Linked DNA regions of Homo sapiens. The protein of the gene in region 1 purifies or fractionates together with the protein of each later gene. This does not show direct contact. Each region holds a gene or a part of one and is shown on either strand. Other genes may lie near its edges.

Evidence for each region.
Region 2: the proteins of RXRG (region 1) and SNX8 purify together in Homo sapiens (affinity purification with mass spectrometry; one large-scale study listed by BioGRID and IntAct). This does not show direct contact.

What each region holds. Positions count from the first base shown.
Region 1 is NC_000001.11:165,400,166-165,403,829, reverse strand, and holds the end of RXRG (retinoic acid receptor RXR-gamma), read left to right. Parts: intron 1-2,419; coding exon 2,420-2,567; 3' UTR 2,568-2,908; downstream 2,909-3,664. UniProt on the Homo sapiens protein: Receptor for retinoic acid. Retinoic acid receptors bind as heterodimers to their target response elements in response to their ligands, all-trans or 9-cis retinoic acid, and regulate gene expression in various biological processes.
Region 2 is NC_000007.14:2,258,914-2,262,724, forward strand, and holds part of SNX8 (sorting nexin-8), read right to left. Parts: intron 1-3,811. UniProt on the Homo sapiens protein: May be involved in several stages of intracellular trafficking. May play a role in intracellular protein transport from early endosomes to the trans-Golgi network.

The DNA.
Region 1 (3,664 bases):
AGAGGGTAGTATGATGGCATACTTCGAATTTTAGATATTGTAAAATCGTGGCCTTTTTAGAGTTAAAAAAATTTTTTAAAGTTAATCCCAGTCTAACTTTGTACTTACAGAGAAGCTGTTTCCTTTGCCTACTTCCATAAAGCTTAACGGCAGAGGCACGGCCGGGAGTTCAGCCTCCTTATTCTCTAACTACCTCTTTCCTGAATGGTGATGCCACTCAAATGCTTTCAGGGGCTTTACCACTGGAGGCTTTTGAAGTAATGTGTAGCATTGGCATAGATCTTTAATTTTTCCATGTAGGGAAGCAATTTCTACTTTTTTAGATGGTGCCGCTTTATTTTCCTTGTATTGCTACATTTCTTTAAAATGTCTTATGGCATAAGTGTAGAAATATACACATTTTCAAGGAACATTGAAATTCTAATTTGTAACTTTTTCATGAAATAATGTTGTGACACTCAGTAAAGATTCATCTGGAACCAGAAATCTCTGACTTAGGGCCACAGTGACTAAAGTGATTTTGGTCCTTGAGCTTTTTTTGGAAGTTGTGAGTAGAGTGACTTTATGTCTAGTAGCATTAATAACGTTAAAAATGAGCTGGCATTGCACTGTGCACAGAGGGTCACACAGACAGAGTGAAAAATGTCACAGAGAGAAGTACCCGAAAGGACATGCAGATGGGAGATGAATTCCTTCACACACTGGTCTTTCTCCCTTTTGTGAATCTCACAACAAATGTCCTCAGTTATAGAAAAATGTGTGTGAGGGTGTGTATGAGTGAGTGTGTGAGGGTATGTGTGTGTGCATGTTGTAAGAACATGTTAGAGTGTGAGTGTGGAGTGTGTCTGCATGTGTGTATGTGTGAGTGCATGCATGCACGTGTGTGTAAGAGTGTGCATGTGCATGTATGTGAGACCACAGGCATGAGATATGTGAGAATGAGTGTGTGCACATGTGTGAGTATGTGTATTGTGTATAATGTGCATGAATATAGTGTGAGAGCATGAGTGTGTGGATGCGTGTGCAAACATGTGAAGTATGTGTGAAGGTGTGTATGCATGAGAGTGTGTGAAGGTGTGTGTGCATGAGTGTGTGTGAAGGTGTGTGTGCAGGCACATGTGAGTTCATGTGAAAGTGTGCATGAGTGGGCATGTGTGTATGTGTGAGGGTGTGTGTGTAAGTGCATGTATGCAAGGGAATGTGACAGTGTAAAAGAGTGTGAGTGTGCGTGTGTGAGTGGTGAGGATGTGTGTGCGGGCACATGGGTGTGAAGCATGTGTGAGTGTGTAGGATAATGTGTGGGTCAGTGTGTATGCATGTGTGCCATGTATCCTCTCCCCAAACAGACCATAGACTCCTCAAGGGCAGAGACTATGATTTTCTCTTTTCCTAATTTAAGGGTAAGCATAGACTAATAAGTTGATCATAAAAATTGGTAACAATTGGCCGGGTGCGGTGGCTCACGCCTGTAATCCCAGCACTTTGGGAGGCTGAGGTGGGTGGATCACCTGAGGTCAGGAATTCAAGACCAGCCTGGCCAACATGGCAAAGACCTGTCTCTACTAAAACTACAAAAATTTAGCCAGGCATTGTGGTGGGAGCCTGTATTCGCAGCTACTTGGGAGGCTGAGGCAGGAGAATTGCTTGAACCCGGAAGGCAGAGGTTGCAGTGAGCTGAGACTGGGCCATTGCACTCCAGCCTGGGCAACAAGAGTGAAACTCGGTCTCAAAAAAAAAAAATTGGTAACAATTGGTTACAAATTGGCAACAAAAATTTGGTGACTGTGGACCCCAAGGCATGTGCCTGTAGTCCCGCCTACTTGGGAGGCTGAGGTGAGAGGATTGCTTGAGCCTAGGTACTCAGGTCCAACCTGAGTAACATGGTGAGAACCCATTCTTAAAAAGATTTTTTGTGGGGGCTGGAAACTAAAGCAAATTGATGGCATGATGGCTAGAGTAAGGTTCTCAAACGTGTCATCTAATGGTGACAGCTACCATGGGTTGAGCACATTCAGTGTCTCACGCTTGGCTCTAAGTGCCTCAGCAGATCTGTGCGGGTACCCGAGGGACACAGAGAATGTGAGGAGCCAGTATGGCTGGCAAAGTGAGTGGACACAGTCATCTAGTTCTTCCTCTTCTCCACTGTGAATGAGGGGAGCTGAGGGCAGTCCTGGGACATGGCTACAGAATTCAAGATTCTTGAAGGGTCATGCGCTCCAGCTTCTGTTAAGGCTGACAAGCCCTCCAGCCTGTTTCTGAAGCTCTTTAGGCTTAGAGATTCTGTGACCCCCTTGTCTACCCTTCCAGCTCTTTTATCACAGATGGGTCGAGAAGGCCAATTGGACGGCCTCCTGCCAGCAGGTGCAGGTGTGCAGTGCCTGCCCGTCCCTGTCCCTGATGCCTCTTGGCTTCCCTGCAGGTTTGCCAAGCTGCTGCTGCGCCTCCCAGCTCTGCGTTCCATTGGCTTGAAATGCCTGGAGCACCTCTTCTTCTTCAAGCTCATCGGGGACACCCCCATTGACACCTTCCTCATGGAGATGTTGGAGACCCCGCTGCAGATCACCTGAGCCCCACCAGCCACAGCCTCCCCACCCAGGATGACCCCTGGGCAGGTGTGTGTGGACCCCCACCCTGCACTTTCCTCCACCTCCCACCCTGACCCCCTTCCTGTCCCCAAAATGTGATGCTTATAATAAAGAAAACCTTTCTACACATGAGACTTTTATAGGTGGACTTTTGTATAGATGTTAAAGGTAATACGCTTTGCTGTCTACAGGGCTGGGAGACTTTCTGGAAGTTCTTGGGAAAACTAATCAAGCCTCTGTACATACAATTGGTTTAAATTATTTTTTCACTTGCCCTGGAAAGCAAACAAATGAGTAATAAAATAATATGTGTGAAATTGGCACTGCTGGAGCATGGGGTGTGTTATTGTGCTACAGGGAAGTCGTCTCAGACATAGAGAAGGGATATCAGAGGCTGGGGTCGAGGCTGGGGCTGGGGTCCTGAGACCATAAATCCCAGAGCACAATGCCTGAATCTAAGCTGGGCTTTGCTGCACAGCCAGCTTTGCCCCAGGGCACATTCTGGGGAGACTGGGAAGAGATGCTGTCTTTCAAAATTAACTTGGTTTTTTGTTTTTGTTTTTCTACTAAGAATAATGAGCAGAAAAAGACTTATTCTAATTGGAGGCAATTGAGTATAAGGCCACAGGAGAGATGTTCTCTGTCCTGGGAGTTGGTGGAAGATCTCCGGTTCTGGGAGTTGGTGGGAGGCGGTAACAAAGGAATAGATTTTTCTGTTATATCATGAGCTAGCAATGATAGTCAAAAGACTAGAGTACACCAAATTTATTTTCTAATCTTATCTAACCCTGTGCAGCCTGTTCTTAAAAGGGAAAGAGAGGAAACCTCTCCCACCTTCTAGTCTAGGATGTCCAGAGTCACCTAGTTTTTGAATCCCAACCATTGGCTGGACAATGAGCTCCTTGAAGGTATAGACTGTGTCTGACACCACTGACAGCCCATATAGCTCACTGTCTTCAACTCACGTACCTGCCATCTGCAGGAATAGGGCTTAACAGATACACAAATCGATGTATGCTGTGAATTACATGGTACCCCCTAGGGTTGTAAATGTAAATGTGCAGCCTGAACAACTGCAC
Region 2 (3,811 bases), on another chromosome or scaffold:
TCCCAGAGTCACCACAGCACCTGGGGACACGAAGCAGCCCCCACGGGCGAACCCCACCCAGACGCTGCCTCGGCCTCCCCGGCTTACACCAGTAGCAGCCCTCGGTGGGGGCGCAGGCCAGGCACAGTGCACACGGCCCGAACACACGGTGCTCAGAGGCATCTGCGGTATGAAGAGTCGGTCCAAAGCCCTGGGCTCCAGCTGCCACTGAGGGGAGCATCCAAGCTCTGGAGACAGCAGGGGTCTGGGGAAGGCAGCGGAAGCGGCAGCCCATCCACCCCTGACCTGCACAGCTCACCACAGACCCCCCAGCCACAACCGCAACCAAGCCAGGCCGATGGCAGGTATCCTGGGGAAACCCCCGACACTGACGCCTTCAGTCACACCCGGGCCCTGAAGGGCTCCGGTCCCCACAGCTCACGCCCTCAGTCCCCACAGCTCACTGAGCACCTCGGGGAGACCAAGCTCCCTCCACGATTCCTCGGGCTCCACCCGTGGTAGGGGGTGAAAAGCTCACCCCACGCACTGCACGTCAAGCTCAGCAGGAGACGGGGCAGGCAGAAGTGGATGGAACGAGTTTTACGGGACACAGCCCTGGAATGGGAGCCAGGGGTGCCGCCCAGGCCCTGCTGCACCCCAGGGGACCCTAAGATACCCCTTCCACCCTCCAGACCTCAGGCCGACTGAACCCGGAGGCTCCCCGGCCACCAACCCCACACCCAAAGCAGCTGGGATTCCAGCCAGTAAAATGTGCCAGGAGAAGAGGTGTGTTAAGAGTTTCTAAAACTCTAGAGAGAAAACGCCAGCTGACCGCAGGTGCCCAGCTCCCACCTGACCAGGCAGGGGCTCAGGAGAATGTAGGCTTATTCCCTGGCCCAGCAGAAGAGGGGGAGTTCAGGGGTCCCTCTGTTCGTGTCATTTGTCACCAAGTCCCATCTGTGGTTCAGTGCTGCACAAGGCCCTAAACCAGGGGTGTCCAATGTTTTGGCTTCCCAGGGCCACATTGGAAGAAGAAGAATTGTCTTGAGCCACACATAAAATACGCTAACACTATGATAGCTGATGAACTAAAAAAAACAAAAAAGGAAAAAAGAAAGAGAGAGAGAAAGAAAGAGAGAGAGAGGAAGGAAGGAAGGTAGGTAGGTCTGTGTGTAAATCTCATAATGTTTTCAGAAAGTTTACAGATTTGGCTTTTTTTTTGAGACAGAGTCTTGCTCTGTTACCCAGGCTGGAGTGCAGTGGCATGATCTCAGCTCACTGCAACCTCCGCCTCCCAGGTTCAAGCGATTCTCTCCTGCCTCAGCCTCCCGAGTAGCTGAGATTACAGGTGCCCGCCACCACGCCTGGCTAATGTTTGTATTTTTAGTAGAGATGGGGTTTCACCATGTTGGCCAGGCTGGTCTCAAACTCCTGACCTCAGGTGATCTGCCCATCTCAGCCTCCCAAAGTGCTAAGATTACAGGCATGAGCCACTGCACCCAACCAAGTTTACGGATTTGTGTTAGGCCACATTCAAAGCTGTCCTGGGCCACACGCAGCCTGTGGGCCACAGGTTGGACAAATGTGCCCTAAACCATTAATGCATGCGCCTTTAACCAAGGCGAAGATCCCGTCACCATGGAAAACACAGACCCTACTCCGAGTCTCACGTGTCTTGCTGGGATATGGCTACCTTCAGCTCCTAATAGGTCTGGGGAGAGTATAACTGGTGTAAGTACAAGCAGACTTAGGAAAAACGGTCCTCGCTGCCCCCGACTGAACAGCAAGGGTGAGATGGAACTTCTGCTGCATCAAATGAAAGGCCTCGAGGTTTGTTTCATGTAAAAGCTCAATTTCACTACAACCAAGGACAGTGAGAGAGATTCAGGAAACAGCACTTCTCCAGACATCACAGTCCCAAAACACAACTCATGAGATGTCCAAGAGTCACAGAGCTGGGCAGAACCTCAAGCCATAAACTCCTACTGCACCAGAAGCCTCAACCTTCTCTCCCTCTTCAAGGTGGAAATGCGGCATCCAGGGCTGAATCAGAAAAAACCTTGGAAATCACCTCATGAGTGATGCTCATCCTGAGCTCTGCAGAGCCCCAGGGCACTCTGGGCACCCCGCCAACAGCCACCTGCTGAAGAGGGAGTGGAATGTGGGAAGGTTCTGGGTCCCTGTGACAAGAATGGCTTTTATGCTTTGCACACTGAGCTTGGGGGAAAGGGTCAGCAGATTACAGAAACAGCTCCTTTGGCTGGGCACAGAGGCTCGTGCCTGTAATCCCAGCACTTTGGGAGGCCGAGGCTGGCGGATCACTTGAGGTCAGGAGTTTGAGACCAGCCCGGCCAACACGGTGAAACCCCATCTCTACTAAAAATACAAAAATTAGCCGGGTGTGGTGGTGCACACCTGTAATCCCAGCTACTGGGGAGGCTGAGGCAGGAGAATCGCTTGAACCCGGGAGGCAGAGGTTGCAGTGAGCCGAGATCACACCACTGCCCTCCAGCCTGGGCGACAGAGCGAGACTCCGTCTCAAAAACAAACAAAAAAAAGAAATAGCTGTTTTAATAATCTAGTCCAACCCCCTTGTATTTAATTGATGGGGAAACTGAGGCCTGGAGACCAGAATAGCTTGATCATGGTCACAGCACAGACACACAATGCATAGGGCAGGGCCCTGAGGTCCTCTGTCTCTATCCTGAAAAGCCCCCAGCCCCACGTTCTCGGTCCCCTCCACCTGGGGGGAGTGGGCACACAGACCTGGAGACAGAAGAGACTCAGCCCCAATCTACAGAAACCAACAGTGCCCTCCCTCCGTTTCTAAAGGGAACACAGAAGCACGGGGGCGGAAGAGGAAGAAAACCCAAGACTTTCCACACCAGCAAAGACATCGAATTTCCTCTTCAGCACGAAAAACGTCACGGGCACCTGAGCGCCCCGTTTCCAGCTTAAAAAGCCCCGACTCCACAGCAGGTGGGTTCACCATTCACCAAGCCACTCAGGAGCTCCGGGGCTCAGGGGAAGCACAGCCCTCACGGGCACACTCTGATCACTCTCTTCAAACTAATATGAGTAGCCTGGAGGCCACTTTCCCAAGAAATAGGAACTAGGCAGCAAGCTCCCACATTCACAACTATGTCCACTTTTTTTTGTTTTTGAGACAGGGTCTCGCTCTGTCGCCCAGGCTGGTGTGCAGTGGCACCATCATGGCTCACTGAAGCCTCTACCTCTTGGGTTCAGGTGATCCTCCCACCTCAGCCTCGTGAGTAGCTGGGACTACAGACACGCACCACCACCCCTGGCTAATTTTTTTTTATTTTTGATAGAGATGAGATCTTGCTCTGTTGCCCAGGGTGGTCCTGAACTCCTGGGCTCAAGCAGTCCTCCTGCCTCAGCCTCCCAAAGCGCTGGGATGATAGGTGTGAGCCGCTGTGCCCAGCCATGTAACACTTTTTCTTAACATAAAAGCACCCAGATGAGCTTTCCAGTGTGATAGTAAACACCGTATCTTCAAACTGATCCCAAATGACTCCAAGATCTTGGCGAATTTCTGAAATCAGCTTCTGCCCATGCAGCAGGAGCACTGCCTGAGGTTGTGTGTGGAGCGGGAGGTGGGAGCCGCTCAGGTGCTGGGGCTTTATTATTCTGATGAGTTAAGTCTCCAGTGCCAAATCCTAGTGGACTCAGACAGCAAAGTGGGAACTATCTGGTCCACCCAGGAGTATGCCTGGAAGCCCAAGATCATCTTTTCAAAGACAGAGTCTGTCTTCCAACCTCAGCAAAATCAACACTCAAGACTACAGCCTAATCTGTTTTGTCGCTGGCA